Regions from separate parts of the Homo sapiens genome. Here region 2 is linked to region 1. A link means that fine-mapping ties the variant in region 1 to the expression of a gene that starts in the linked region. Tissue or cell type: testis. Region 1 holds a variant in brackets; the other region holds the start of a gene. All regions are shown on one strand. Distances are from middle to middle.

What was found. PIP is the estimated chance that this variant, and not a neighbour inherited with it, causes the effect.
Region 2: it holds the start of LINC02082, and the variant in region 1 is fine-mapped to the expression of LINC02082 in testis (GTEx, PIP above 0.99).

The regions. Positions count from the first base shown.
Region 1 is chr3:168,824,896-168,833,371 of GRCh38, reverse strand. It overlaps the pseudogene EGFEM1P. Among named protein-coding and RNA genes, the nearest start is that of LINC02082, 73 kb to the left of the region's middle. The variant G/A (reference allele first, on the strand shown) is at 4,246.
Region 2 is chr3:168,897,773-168,906,248 of GRCh38, reverse strand. LINC02082 (long intergenic non-protein coding RNA 2082) reads right to left here and starts at 4,304. Exons shown (of 5, transcript NR_109989.1): 1 at 4,270-4,304; 2 at 2,709-2,883.

The sequences.
Region 1 (8,476 bases):
AGCCAGGCATGGTCCCTGTAGTCCCAGGTACTCGGGAGACTGAGGCAGGAGAGTGGTGTGAACCCGGGAGGTGGAGCTTGCAGCAAGCCGAGATCACACCACTGCACTCCAGCTTGGGCGAAAGAGTGAGACTCCATCTCAAAATAAATAAATAAATAAATAATAAAATAAAATAAAGCTTTATTGCTCACACAAAGCCTGTTGGTGGTCTCTTCACATGGACGCGTGTGACAGAAAGCCCTTAGGTGTTCCCTCTGGTAGGATTAATAACAGTCTGCTATCAAACATCTATTATTTCAATATCTTTTAAAATATAATTAAAATAAGTGATTTACACAACTTCTTTCATTAAATTGTGCACGAATTCCTTGAGGGCAAGATGTTGTCTTAACTTTTTTAGTATTTCATATAGTGGTGGTCCCCAACCTTTTTGGTACCAGGGACCAGTTTTATGGAAGATAATTTTTCCATGGTCTGGGCCAGGGTGGGGTGGATGGTTTTGGGAAGATATAAGTACATTACATTTATTGTGCACTTTATTTCTATTATTATTACATTGTAATATATAATGAAATAATTATGCAACTCACCATAATGTAGAATTAGTGGGAGCCCTGAGCTTGTTTCCTGCAACTAGATGGTCCCATCTGGGAGTGATGGGAGACAGTGATAGATCATTGGGCATTAGATTCTCATAAGGAGCATGTAACCTAGATCCCTCACATGCGCAGTTCTGCAATAGGATTCATGCTCCTTTGAGGATCTAATGCCACTATTGATCTGACAGGAGGTGGCACTCAGGCAGCAATGTAAGCAATGGGGAGTAGCTGTAAATACAGACGAAGCTCCACTCACTTGCCCAACATTCACCTCCTGCTGTGTAGGCCTGTTTCTAACAGGCCACAGACAAGTACCAATCTGTGGCCCAGGGGTTGAGGACCCCTCCCCCATATATACTTAACAAATAATAGGTACATAAAAGACTCAAGAGATAGTAACAAAATTAAAACTTAATGGTTATTATGACCTGAGACCTTTCTCGCCTTCAATGTACTCTGAAAACTTCTCAGGAATATTGACACCATATGGACATTTTTAGGGTGTTTGCTTGCGAAAGACACAATGATATTTATACACAGTGGCATTAAAAAAAGAAACACTTAGAGAGAAAAGAGTTCTATATGTCAGACTGGTCCTTATATTTGAATATTAAGAAATTATGGTACTAGAATGAATAGATGCCAAACAAGTAAATATAAATCATAAGTAGATACAATTGAATCATAAGTAGATAAAAAATTGCAGAACACAGTGGACTGTGAGTCCAACTCACAAACAAAGGGTCTGTGTCTATGTCTATATGAAAGGTATGTGTATTGGAGGGCAACTTCTGGATGACTTGCCTTGTAGAAATAAGAATTTATTTTGCGCTTTGCCAGATATTCAATTCAGGACTCTGGAAGCAAGCAGGAAGAGTAATCACAGATTACTGTAGGCAGCTAGCCAGCTATATTTACCCCAACACACAAAGAGGCTTTTAAACACAGTCAAGATTGGGTAGCCCTCTAAAAACGAAAAAAGACTGAGACAACTCAGCATCTGCAGAAGGTAGAGAAAATTTGTTAGGTCATTAGGTTAGGTGAAGAACTGGATATATAATCAACTTCTGTTTTTGTTTTTGTTTTTTGAGATGGAGTCTCGCTCTGTTGTCCAGGCTGGAGTGCAGTGGCATGATCTCGGCTCACTGCAACCTCTGCCTCCTGGGTTCAAGCAATTCTTGTGCCTCAGCCTCTGGAGTATCTGGGATTACAGGCGCCTGCCACAACACCTGCCTAATTTTTGATATTTTCAGCAGAGACAGGGTTTCACCATGTTGGCCAGGGTGGTCTCAAACTCCTGACCTCAGGTAATTCACCCACCTCGGCCTCCCAAAGTGCTGAGATTACAGGCGTGAGCCACCGCACCTGGCCCTATAATTAACTTCTGATATACAGCATCTGTCATCAGGCTTGGTCCAGTTGAACAGGTAGGGACATTGGCTGATATCAAGGTCCCACCAGGAAACGCGGTGTACCAGGCAACTTAGGCTGTAGAAATAGGTTGGATGTGCTATATAAGGACCAAACAAACAAACAAACCAAACAAAACAAAAACAACATCCCTCCACCATTAAATTGAGTATGGGCTATTAATAGCATTTGACATTTCAACAATGTTTTCGGCTATGTTAGCAACGATTTTTGCAATCTGCAAAGGTGGGGCCAAAAATAAAACAACCTTAAGGAAATTTCTTGACTGCTTAGGTTTTTTTCTATGGAATCTTAAATTCCTTTATTTTCTCTCAATTTTATAAGCAGGCAGCTACAAAATTAATATTAGAAAGCACTGTCTCATTTGATAGATATATAATATTGGTATGTACTTTACTGATTATCTAGTCCTCAATTATTAATTACTTCAGACAAATTACTTAATTCTTCCTATATACAGCCTCCTCGTTCATGAAATGGGGATGATAATAGTACCAAATTCAGATAGTTGTTCTAAGGTTTAAGTGAGCATACTGATGGAAAACACAAAACACAGTGTGTAATACAGAGTAGATACTCAACATGAGCTTTGAGTAATACATCACTATACAGCATGTCTATATTTACTACATAATGTTATTCTCTATACATTGAATTATATATTATATAATTATATAGTCGAACTCTTTCCTTTTATATACAGACACTAAAAGCCAGAGATATTTGTTCACTTTTCTTTTTCTTTTTTTTTTTTTTTGTCGCCCAGGCTGGAGTGCAATGGCGCAATCTCAGCTCACTGCAACCTCTGCCTCCCGGGTTCAAGTGATTCTCCTGCCTCAGCCTCCTGAGTAGCTGGGATTACAGGCGTGTGCCACCACTCCAGGCTAATTTTTGTATTTTCAGTAGAGATGGGGTTGGCCAGGCTGGTCTTGAACTCCCGACCTCAAGTGATCCTCCCGCCTCGGCTTCCCAAAGTGCTGGGATTACAGGTGTGAGCCACGGCGTCCAGCCTACATTTGTTTACTTTTCTAAGGTAACTCTGTTGTATTTAAAAGGAATGATTGCATACATTGAAAGTGAGTATAGAAGGAAATAATCTGGACTCTTGAGATGAAGCTAAGGAATCATCATTGTCTGATGTTAGTCTTCTAATCCATTGAAAAATCTTCTCATGAAAAGTGTTTTCAGAAATGGAGTACAGACCAATAAAGCTGTGGTGCTACAGCTTTCTTGATTTCCTCTTGCTATATTAAAAGGCTGAGTAATTCAATCCAGTTTAACGAGTATTGGTTACTGGGTATTTTTCAGTATCATAAACGCTGTGTTTTGCAAGTTTTTTTTTTTTTTACTCAGTAAATTATTTCGATGGAATTTTAAGTTGTCAAAAATGTTCTTTAATTGAATCTAGCAAATCTTTATTGAGTACCCCTTGTATATTGAAAAGTGGGGTGTACAAAAATTAATGATAAGCAGTCTTAATAGCAGGCAACTAATTATAATACAATATGATTGGTGCTGCTATGGAAAGAAGGGCTCTAGTATTTTGTTTACATATACTGGAAAATAAAAATGCTTGAGGAATAAATGCTTGAGGGAATAAAAATGGAAGAAGAAAACATGTATTACAGGAAAGAGCAATGAACAATGGCACCATGTTTTAAATGTACATGATGTTGGGGGAATGACTAAAATATGTAGGGTATACGTAAGCATGGTCAAAAGCTGGCTAGAGACAGGTTGATGATGGGTCTTTAGTGCTACGAACTTCATTATGAACAGTATCAGTAGCTCAATGAGGTTTATAAAGTAATGACATGATTAACTTTGTTTTTAATGATCTAATTGAGACACTGGAAGGTGATCAAGTAGAAAACAGAACAATTCTTGGCCCCCCTTTAGCAGGTATGTACTAAAAATGACAGCTAATTTGAATATTAACTTTTCAAAAATACAGATAGGAAGACAAATCTTCTACAGACCAAATCAACCGCTACTCAACTTAATGGCTTTATATCAGCTGCACCATGACCCCCTCTCATTCTCTTGGACGATGGGGGAGATGAACGCATTGGTAATGAAATACCCATCAGTCCTCAACTACATCCCTATTTTAAAACTGAATTTGCACAATAGCTTTTTGAAAGGCCTGTCACTGCTGCACTGTTGCCTCTGTCGCACTTCTCTGTGGGAGCTGACATTTTGCTGATACTTCATC[G/A]GGCTGGACCGCCTGCTGAGAGCCAGATTGGTAAGGGAAATGCATCTCACTGTGGGAAAGGATAGGAGATGTATTATTTAAATACAATTTATTTTACAGCAACTTTAAAAATCTGATTTACAATTGTTTCAGAGAGGAGGAAGTATCTTGTTGTACCTTAGCTCTTTATGTTTGGTAATATTTCAGATTTTAATTGTTTTTCTAATTTTTAAAACTTGTTTGCTGTTTTGCCTTGCTTTACACATACTCTTTTACTTCTACCTTGGATAACTGGTAACTGTCTTTTCTTTTTCTTCTTCTTCTTCTTCTTTTTTTTTTTTTTTTTTTAACAAAAGTGTGTCACTAAGGAAATACCAGCCCTCATTCGTGCTGGGTGTGGTAGAGGAAGTTGGAAAACAGCTTAGAGGTTGTTAAAGGATTCTCTAGATTGAGTCAAAACCCCAGCTATATGAATTCTAGAGTAAAAGACTGAGGAGACTGTGTTTACACATAAAGCAACTCAATACCTTCTTTTGTCTGTTTTTTGAATCTTGAATCCATTTAGCCAAACAATTGATTTTTGTCTTGAAAATAAAATAGCCTATCTAAATAGCAAATTTTTGTTGGTTGGAACTATTTATTGGTTAATTCAACCAAAAAGGTCAATCGGGTTATCTGTTTAGAAACAGTAAAATAAAACTGATACCTGAAAAGTAATAATTTCTTCATATCAATAGAGAAAGTAAAAGTTAAGAAATTGTTTGGTGTGTTCAGAATACAAATATTTGCCAGCCAATGGTATGCTGGAGCCATAACTACCGGCTCGGGAAAGCCAACTGCTACATTTTCAGGAATTTTGCAAGCCATTTGAAATCACATTGATTGCTTGAAATCACCACGGTAGGAGTATTATACCTTGGAAATCGGCAAACACTAAAACTCAGTGCTTTTATCTTTCACAGAGCCTGTTAAACATTTGCCAGCTTAGCACTGAGGAAGGCTTACACCTGTGTTCATTATGGTTTTTATGAAGTTTGATCAAATAATATTTGAAGCATGGATGTATTTGGAATTAGTATCTCCCTTCCCATGTCTTTTCTCCTTTCTGATTTTCTCTCCTTTAATAGTGAAGGGGCCTGTTTTGTAAGTGCTCCTGAAAAATAAAAGTAATCACTAAATGACTAAGGAATAGAAAATGAGGTTTCTGACGAAAGGGAAATAAAATATTAGGAGGAAACGTTACTATGTTCTTTTAGGTGTTTATTTTTCAAGAGTTTTGGTAGTGCTGATGAGCTATGGTTAATATTCACAATAGGAGAAAAAGGAGAAAATGGTCTAAAATTAAAATAGCAATAAGTTAAATATGACTGAAGGAAAAAAATATCTTCACTATTATGGGAACAGTTTAGGCCAACAGAGAATACTTTAAGAATAGATAACTATTTTTCTTGGATATTTAGTCACCAATTGGTCTAAAGATGATGCCATTTTTTTCTCTGATTCCTAAGGAAAAAGTAGTAAACTAGTAAATATGAAAAAGACAGAAATGTATAAAGGAGAAAAATATTCACCCATAGTCCCACCATCTAGAGATGGACACTGTTTAAAAACTGCTGTCCTTTCTTCTACAATTTCCCATATACATACATAGCTACATGTTCTTACAAATTTGAATCATTCTGTACATATAGCTTTTAACATCAACTCAATGTCAATTTTTCTGACATGACATATTCTTCTAAAACATGAAACTTAATGGCCTCAGAAGAGTCCAGTGATATGCTGTATAATTTGCTCAATCATTCTCCTTCTAGTGGGTATTTAGGTTGTTTCTACTTTAAGCTTTTTTTGTTGTTATAAATAATGCTGGGATAAAGAAAAGGCTGGGAGCCCTTCTCTGATTATTTGCTAAAAGGCCTGACATGTAAGATTTAACTGCCCTTCACATAGATGATGCATTCTTATCAAGGGTGTGAGAGTGCCTGTGATTCCACCCCCATGGCCATGCCACACCATACACATACTGTTTAGGAAGCAAAAACAAAAAACAGCAACAAAGTCCAATCTACCATAATCCAGAGGATTTTTTAAATACAGTGAAATAAAAGATTTAAAAAGATTTTCCCCAAGTATTTGTATTTATAACTTCCAAACAACAGGATTTATTAAAAAGCCAATATATTTAAACGTAGCTTTTTGGTCTTTCCTGCCTCTAAAATATATTACTTATATAGCCTATGAGTATTTTTACAGTTCATTATGCAGAGTAACTAGGTTTTAAAATTCTGTGAGCACCATAACGGGATATTTAGAGAAATGTTGTATGCTTTTCTTCAAATACATGCCACTTTTAAAATGCCACACACATTTTTTGTGAGGTACGCGTGAAGCATTTTTAATGAATTCTATCATTTGGCTCCATTCATTTTCCTAAATATCTTATTATGGTGATTATATAATTTGTGTTTGTGTCTGTGTGTGTAAAATCAGATAATAGCATGTAATACTAAAATTGGACTGGACTAGGAGTCAGGGAATATTTTTGCATATTGAATTCAATACATGTATCATTATCAAGTTGCCAATAAAATGTAAATAGTATTACTTATCACTAACAAATCTCTCAGGACTATCATGAAATGTTTTTCTGGGATTTGAAGTCATAAAAGGAAAGAACTGTAACATAACTATGAAAATTAATATCTTAAAGAATGAGGAGTTTATCTTTTTCTTCACTTGTTCTTAAATGGTCTATTTATATCACTTGACAACTGGAACAGTGTAAACTTTATCACTATCTGCTTAATAATTATTCCATTAAAGTTGAGTTAGACAAGAGAAAATGTCACTTCACTGTGGAAATAGCAAGTAACTACCTTTTGAATATGTAAATTCTTACCTTTAAGAGGTATTTTTTTTTTTTTGAAGCAAACAAGTAGGTTAGGGATAGCCAACTGCTTCTCCAGTAAACTATTCTACTGTTTGAAATGCTTGTCAAAAGTGCCAGAATAATGGTTCTAAAATAAAGTATCTTGCTATATACAGAAAGTCATCAAAGATCTAGTCCTGTAACTTTTGCCTGAGGGTTCTCCCTAGGGGCAGCAATATTTCCCAAAGTGATCATATGATTAGCTCAGTGCTAAATACTATCTGCTTACATTTTATATATGGTGTTTCTGATTTTATATATTTGTTGGTTAATGGAAAGGCCTAAGCACTGAAAGCTAATTCAAATCACTGTTCACACTTCATAAAATGATAATCACAAATGTTTGCTAATCTTTATTAGACAAATAAATAGTAATGTAAAAAAAAAAGTATAATTACTATCCAGCCCATAGTTTTCCTCACATTCTCAAGTCACTGTGTTTCATTGTCAATGGAGTAGAGAAGGTGATACAGGCAGGGTTAGCACAACTTACAAATAATCACAACCAGAAAAGGGTACAGCGGGATAGTAGTTCTACTGGCTCCTTGAAACTAGTTCGATGTAGCTAATCACTTTCTATCACTCTCTAATCTGCTCCCATCTGACAAGAATGATAATTCTAGTCTAATAGGTTCTTAAAGTGCCTTTCAGTATAAATTTGAATAGCATACTATGGTAGATTGCTTCCAAAAATGGCTGCAACCATATCTCTCAACTTGAAGGTCTTTTGCAATAAGCTTCTGCTACTCTTCTCTTCAGAAGGTAGAATCTCTTTCTCCTTCCCCTGAACTTGGCTTGCCCATGACTTGCTTTAACCAATAGAATGTGGTGAAAGTGACAATGTGTGGCTTCTGAGGCAAGGCTTTTCCACCTCACATAGCTTTTGCTTGCACACTTTTGGAATGCTCCTTCTTTATTGTCTTAAAACTGTCACGCTATAGGAAAGTCCAAGTTAACCTTGTGGAAATGTTTTGTAAAGGAAAGGGCAAGTTCCCTGGTTGAGCAGCCCAGCCATGCCCAGTCTGTTCTCAAATATCTACCAGCCCAAGCAGTCACATGAGTGACCCCAGGGGACACCAGCAGTATAATCGCCTCATCAAACCATAGAATTAAGGGAAATATTAAATCATTGTTTTAAGCCACAAAGTATTGGGGTAGTTTGTTACACAACAATAAATGGTGGGAACATGCATCCTAACATAGCAATATCTTGTATAGCAGGAAAAAAAAGCATTTTTAAAGTTAACAGTTTTATTAACTTTGTTGGTTATTTCGTCTAGGTTTATGACTTACATATGGTACAGGATTTTCTTGTGTAATCAG
Region 2 (8,476 bases), 73 kb before region 1:
AAAGAAAGAAAAAATTGTATGGAGAAGCACATTGACAATAGTTTGATCATACAAATAAGTGAATATATAGGTGCCAGTTTCTATAATTAGTCTAGAAAAGTGAATGAGGAAATTGAAATAGCTTTAAGTAGATCATGCTTATGTCCTATGATGTGCACATAAACATTTGGCCAAAGCCTTTCCTAAAATCCTTCAATACCGGCTGGGCGCAGTGGCTCACGCCTGTAATCCCAGGACTTTGGGAGGCCAGGGAAGGTGGATCACGAGGTCAGGAGTTTGAGACTAGCCTGACCAACATGGTGAAACCCCATCTCTACTAAAAATACAAAAATTAGCTGGGCGTGGTGATGCATGTCTGTAATCCCACCTACTCAGGAGGCTGAGACAGGAGAATCGCTTGAACCCGAGAGGCAGAGGTTGCAGTGAGCCAAGATTGTGCCACTGCACCCCAGCCTGGGTGACATGTGACAGAGTGAGACTCCATCTCAAAAAATAAAAAAATGAAACAAAAAAAACAAAGAAAAAACAGAAAAAAATAAAGAAAAAAAATCCTTCAATACCTTAAAGACATAAAGAAGCAATGTGTTCAAATCCAGGCTAAATTTAGTGAGAATGATTTTTAAATTAAATTATTTAAATAAATAAGACAGTATCTGTGGAAGGTGATATCATATAATTTTTGATATTTGAAGTCCTGGGAGTAAATGACAGAGATGGGTGTGAGAGAAAGGAAGAAGGAAGAGAAGAAGGAAGAAAGAGATTAAAAGAATATGATGCACATACAGTAGGTAAATATCTTACAAGGAAGTTAGGTTTTGAAGTCTGTAAAATTTAACCTTTGAAACATTTCCTTAGGTGGCCAATCAAGTACAATACAGAATATGTAAGTCCAATATGGAAGACTTAAAACCTCTTGGAGGTTTGGCAAAAATATTAAACAATATATGCACAAAACTATTTATTGATACAAAATTTATAATACCAAAAGCTTAGAAAAGAATATTAATATGACCATGATCTGCTTCTAAATAATACCATAGAGGTACAGAGTGAGGGAGTGGCTGGAAGTATAGATGACACAAGATTAATCATAAATTGATTGATTATTGTTGAAGGTGAATGACAGATATATGGAGATTCATTATACCGTTATATCATTCTCTTAACTCTTGTATGTGTTTGAAATGTTACATAATAAAAACTTTAAATGATAGAATCAATGGTAAAAATATCCCACATACTAAATGCCAGAAAATTACTCAACTTACAATCAAAAAGAGCATGGACATGATAGTACTGTCTGTTTTTAAAAAGCTGATTTTGTAATCTCAAATCACAAAACTGATAAGAGCCATCTCCCATGAATTAGGCAGGATATCCATCTTTTCAAAATCCCATGAAAAATGGCCTTGAATCTTAGATTTGGAAGGACTGTCAGGTATTATTCAGCTCAATACCCTCATTTTCAGATGGGAAAATTAAATCAGAAAGAGGATGTGAACTGCCCAAAGATAGACCACATGGTATTAGCAGAGCTAGGGTTAGCATTCATGTTTATCCATGCCCATTGCAATGTGGTTTCTTCTATAACATGTTGTTGAATTTCATGACAGTTGAACGAGTAGTGACGGAGAGTAGATAATCACACTCATTTTCACTAAGTCGGAAGAGTCACACCACCCGCAGTTGAAACCATCTGGGTAAACGTACATTGTGAATTTTTTTCTGCTCTGAGTGCCTCAAGTTTAGGCCTCCAGCACAATGTTCTCATCCACACTTTGCCAGAACCTTTGCTCTGTAATCTGCCAAAATACAATGTCTCCTACAATAGTGCGCTCTAAATAAAGTTGGTGCTTTCCAGTGTTGTACAAAATAACAAATTGTGGTTCAGGAAAACAAACATTAGAACAACTATCAATATTCATTTTATCCATGTTTATCAATTTAAGCATTTATCTACATTTTATAATATACTTATTAGTCAAGACGTGCAAGAATGTCATTTATAAATAAAAATGCATGTATAGTGGTATAGCAGGCCCCCCATCCATGGAGAATACATTCCAAGACTCCCAGTGGATGTCTGAAAGCTCAGATAGCATTGAACCCTATATACACTACGTTTTCCACTATACATGCATAACAATAATAAAGTTTAATTCATAAGTTAGGCATAATAAGGCATTCACAGTAACTAATAAAAAAATTACATCAATGTACTTAGAGTTCTGCCAATCTTACAAAAATCTTACTGTACTGTACCGCAGGTAAACCACAGGCAAAGGGGGACTACTGTACTGATTAAATTTTTCCTGATGAAACAAATTTTGGAGACTTTTGGGTGGTCCTCTTCCCTCTTTGCAGCTGTGCCTATTCTTATTCATGTGATCTGGCTTCTCCCAGAGCCCTGTATCCTCCGCCTTGCCTGCCTGAAAGCCTCAGAGGTGGTGGAGATTCTTCAGCTTCATGCCTAGAAACTCAAGACTTAGTAGATTTGGTGTCCACAAAGCCTTTCTTTAGGCTTAAAAAGTGGCTGGTAGGGGAGTTAAGTTTAGGTCTCAGAGGAGCTCTTTCACATTAATACTATTTCAATTACTTAAGGAGTTTAGGAGTTTTCATGTGATATTTCAGTAACAATATCAATCATATTTACATAACAATTTTATTGGATATTCAATTATAGTTCTAAACAACTTGAATTAGCTTACTGGAAAATAGCTTCTTCACAAGTTTCTGCTGTATTTTATCAACCAATGACAGTATTCTCAAAAGTAGATCCTTTTTTTATTTTTGAGACGGAGTCTTGCTCTGTTGGCAGGCTGGAGTGTAGGGGCGCAATGTTAGCTCACGGCAACCTCCGCCTCCAGGGTTCAAGCAATTCTCCTGCCTCAGCCTCCAGAATAGCTGGGACTACAGGCGCCCGCCACCATGCCCAGCTAATTTTTGTATTTTTAGTAGAGACGAGGTTTCACCATATTGGCCAGGTTGGTCTCGATCTCTTGACCTCATGATCTGCCCACCTCAATCTTCCAAAGTGCTGGGATTACAGGTGTGAGCCACTGCGTCCGGCCTAAAGTAGATCTTTATTGAGGGAAAAAAGGCAGTGAATCAACTTGCTTTTTTCACAATAATTTCCTGTCCACCCAAGGCCACAGATAGACCTTCTATCTGCAGAATTGCAAAGGCCACCATTTTTACAAGTACATTTTAGCTGATAATTGAGGCCATGTCTTATCTGGGGACAACCTGTAATAAAATTTTGTAAAAATAAAATAACACAACACTTTTCTCTTCCTTTCTTTCTTCCTTCCTTCCTTCCGTTCTTTCTCTCTTTCTCTTTTTTTTTTTAAAGGAGTCTTGCTCTGTCACCTAGGCTGGAATGCAGTGGTATGATCTTGGCTCACTGCAACCTCTGCCTCCCAGGTTCAAGCAATTCTCCTGCCTCAGCCTCCTGAGTAGCTGGTACTACAGGTGCATGCCACCACACCTGGCTAATTTTTGTATTCTTAGTAGAGACAGTGTTTCACCTTGTTGGTCAGGCTGGTCTCAAACTCCTGACCTCAGGTGATCCACCCACCTTGACCTCCCAAAGTGCTGGGATTACAGGCGTAAGCCATGGTGCTCAGCCGGAAAAACAACATTTTTCTCTACTTCAGATACAGTAACTGTATCTAGATAGCAAAAGCTTAATAAATGTTAAAATTAAAACAAAGAACTACTCACATGTTATCTGTAAGGTAGCAAATATATCACTTTCATTCATTCATTTTTTTCATTCACTCCATGAATATTGATTAATACTGTGTGTTTGGTATACTGGGACCTGCAGAGACCCTTGTGAAGAAGGAGCAGTCAATCCTGGATGACTAGGGATAAGATTTTATATATTTAGTTTCATAACTGATAAAGAAGAAAAATGAGCAGTTTGTTTTCAAGTTACTGAAATGGTAAAAGTATTTCAACTTACAGAGGTGGGTGACACAAACTAAAATGCACTATCAAGAGGAATTAAGACACAAGTGGCCTGGGGGTGGTGGCTCATGCCTGTAATCCCAGCACTTTGGGAGGCCAGGACAGGTGGATCACAAGGTCAAGAGATCAAGACCATCCTGGCCAACATGGTGAAACCCCATCTCTACTAAAAATACAAAAATTAGTTGGGCATGGTGGCGGGCGCCTGTAGTACCAGCTATTCCAGAGGCTGAGGCAGGAGAATCCAGAGGCTGAGGCAGGAGAATCCGGAAGCTGAGGCAGGAGAATCACTTGAACCCGGGAGGCGGAGGTTGCAGTGAGCCATGATGGTACCACTGCACTCCAGCCTGTCGACAGAGAGAGACTCCGTCTCAAAAAAAAAAAAAAAAAAAAAAAAAAGGACACAAGTGAACGAAACTAACCAGACAAGGAAAACGGAGCCTCTCTTTCTTCAGTGTCACGGAAAAGATAATTGAATGATGAGAAGTGCAACCGATGGGAGTGCAAAGCCCCTCCAAGGTGAGAATCAGACTTGCATTTTGTTGCTTTTGCTATGAAGAACGCAAACCCAATACTGCCAGCTAATATGACTTTTTAAGGAAAACTCAAAAGTTCATATTTTATGTGAAATTAACAAATCTTTGAAAGTTGACCACTAATTAAAATTGTTTTACAGCGCTGCTAAAAGCCAAAACTATGACAGCCAATTCAAACATATTTGTGGCTACATTTGGCCAACAGCCTGCCATTTATGACCTGAAGTTTATAGTATTTTTACATAATAATATTTTCCACATGGATTATCTCATTTAATACTAAAAAATACTCCTGTGATGTGGGTAGCAGTATTCTTATTTTACTCTTGAGAAAATTGAAGCTCTGAGTCTAAAGTCTTGCTCAAACTTAAACAGCCTATAAGGATAAGAACTAAGAGTCAAATCTAGACTATCTGACTTCCAATCAAATTATTTCTATTCCAACTAGCAGAAGCAAACTAGAGTAATTTTTAAAATTCCAGCTAGCAGAATAAACATTAGAGAAATTTTTATATTCCAGCAAGTAGGAAAAAAAGAGTTAGAGAGACTTTTTTTTTTTAACTTGCCCAAAGGCATTGGTTAATACATAGCAGAACAGGTACATGAATTCAATCTGCATGATACTTTCTTTATTGCTTTTATTTGAGCAACTAGCTGCACTGAATTCCAGTACCAAATGAAAAAAATTTTTTGATTTTGTTACTTAAATAACAGTTATAGTTGTACAATTAATGGTTGAATCATCATTATACGTGCAATAGACTACCTTTAATTAAATCCATTTTACCTTTTGCATATAGGGCAAATTAAGCAGAATCAATATCAGGTGTTATTAAAATAAACTTTTGCCTGTTTTCCTTCTACGCTCCTAAAACAACCCTGTCCTCATCAGCCAGGAGACCCATTCATCTACCAGCCTATATGTTGAAATGGATTGATGAAATCAATGAATCTGTGAAAATACAGGACTTCTACTAAGCCAAGATAAGATTTAAAACATAATTGGGGAAAAAAAGCATAATTGAAAAAGTAAGAAAAACTCAGAAATATTTACTTCTACAGGTCTAGGTCTTATGACAATATTGACACAGAATTGTGTAAATGACTTTATGGCCTTTTTAAACTTTATGTAATCACATGTTAATTATTTCAAACAATATACAAAAATATATTATGAAAATATTCCATTCCTGTGTTCCAGTATTCTCAGTTCTTTTCTTAAAAACATCATCAAAAACGTCATAATTACCAGCTATTTTCTGTATCACAGGCTTCACTTCTTTCAATAAGACTTACCTTGAGTACTCTAAATTTTCAACACACCCTGCGCTCTCCAGCCTTATTTCATGCTCTTTTTTCTCTTACCACAGATTTTACTCCCTCTAGAGTACACACACACACACACACACACACACACACACACACGTTACTCTTAAGAACATTGAAGCTCAGAGTCTCAAGTCTCGCTCAGACTTAAGCAGCCTGTAAGGATAAGAATATATATATGTTAGAGGGGTATAAATAACATATATAAATTTATTAATTCCCTTATTATTTATATTTATTATTATCTCTCTCACTAGAAAGCAAGTTGCATGAGCACTTGTATAGTCTGTATTTTAACCATACACTTTATATGCTTAAAACAGGCATTGTCATTCAATAAATATTTTTTGAATTAAGTGGATAAATGGCTGGATATATCCAGAAATAGCCTATGGCTAGTAAAGCATAATATGTCTATCTCCTGTATCCCTTAATGCTTTTCTACCCAAAGGTTAATATGTGTGTATGTGTGAGTGTGTCTATATATATATATAAAATATATAATATATGATATATAATATATTATATAATACATTATATATAATAAATAATATTGTAAATGTTGCTTTCTTTTACATAAAATTTCCCAAGATTTTTCCAAATTAGTAAATATAGATTAACAATGTACTAAATTAGTACATGTATATAAAATTAGTATAGTACATAAATTAGTACACAAAGTATTTAAATAATTTTTCCAAATTACTACATTAGTACATATATGCCTCATTCTTTTTTAACAGCTACATAGGAATTTATTGTGCTTTGCAAAATTTATTTTGGCACTCCAGATTGTTTAAAATAATTTGCTACTACAAACAATGCTGTAATGAACATCATTATGTAAGTCTTCATTCTTATGATATGATAATATAGTATAATATCACAATATAGTACCTATAGAGTAAATTCTTCAAATAAAATATGTGCTTTTTAAGTAGTAATGAACACTATCAAATTTCCCTACAAAGAGATTTTCCAATTTACTAAGGATTATCAATGTGCCCATTTTTCAATCTTTAGCCAATATGGCATGCCATGATTATCTGATAGGTGAAGATGGTACAAAGTGCAACTTAAATTTGGATTTGTCACACTATAAATGATGCTTATCATCTTTTATAAGATCCACCGGGTGTTGTACAGCCTTTTCTTATTGATATATGAAAGAAATCTCTTTGCTTATTAAGAAAATTAGCCCAGATACAGTGGCTCACACTTGTAATCTCAGCACTTCGTAAGGCCGAAGTAGGAAGATTGCTTGAGCCCAGGACTTGAGATCAGCCTGGGAAATATAGTGAGACTTTGTCTTCATGAGAAATAAAAAAATTAGCTGGGCATGGTGGTACGTGCACATAGTCCCAGCTACTCAGGAGACTGAGGTGAGAGGATCGCTTGGACCCAGGAGTGAGAGACTGCAGTGAGATATGATAGCATCACTTCATTCCAGCCTGGGTAATAGAATGACACCCTGTTTCAAAAAAATAAAAACAACAAAAAAAACCCCCCACAGATCTTAAAACTTAATCTCCCATTCCAGCAGGTGTAGCTTAAAAAAAAAGAAAAGTAAAAGAAATAAAAGAAAATTAGTGCGCTTTGTTGGTCTTTCTTCATCCAGCTTATTTATACATTGCTTTTCTGTGTGTTTTATACCTTGAATAAATTTTTGATTTTCTTTAAGTCAAAAAGACCATGGGTTTCTTTTCTAAAAAATGAGTTCTGAGTTTTTGTCATGGCCATACAAAATAATGTTTTAATCCCCATGTTAATTTTGGTACTTGCATAATTTTCGTGATTATCTTTAAATACTTTATGCACCTGGAAGTAATTTGGATGAACAAAATAATGTAGGAATACAATTTTATCTTTTTCTAGATTGCTGTAATTTCTCTTAATGGAACTAATAAGGTCAGTCATATTTTACCTTTTTTTTTAGTAATTCCTCATTTCAAGTTTATTTTATTGTTTTTATTGTTCTTTATTTTCATCCCTTCTTATTACTAAATATTTACATAAATATTTTGGAAGATAAATTCAGTCTTTCATCACTAATTATAATACCATAGGCTTTATGTAAATGCAAATTATCAAGCTGAGAACATTCCCTTTATTTTTAGTTTTCTGCGTTCTTTAAAATCATGAATAATATTGAATTTTGTCAAATGCTCTTTCTGCATCAATTGGTATGATACTCCTAAATTTGATCTTTAGTCCATTAATATGGTAAAATTGATTTTCAAACATTGAACCAGCCTCACATCCCTAGAACGAAGCACACTTGGTGGTGTATAATTAATTTTTAAACTCTTGAATTATATTTTCTAATATTTTTTTAAACATTTTTGCTATGTTCATGAAAGACATTATTTGGTAGTTTCTGTTTTTGGTAATATTTTTGGTTTTGGTATCAGAATAAAATGAATTGGATTCCTTTTTCTTATATTTTAGTAAGAGATTGTGTAGAATGTTAATTCATCTTAACATTTTATAGAATTCTCCAGTCAAATCATCTGGAACTGGAAAATTCTAATTTATATTTACAGGACTATTCAAATTATCTATTTCATATTGGATTAGTTATTCTTTGTGCTCTTCAAGGAACGAGTTCCTTCTATCTAATTTGTCAAATTTATATGTGTAGA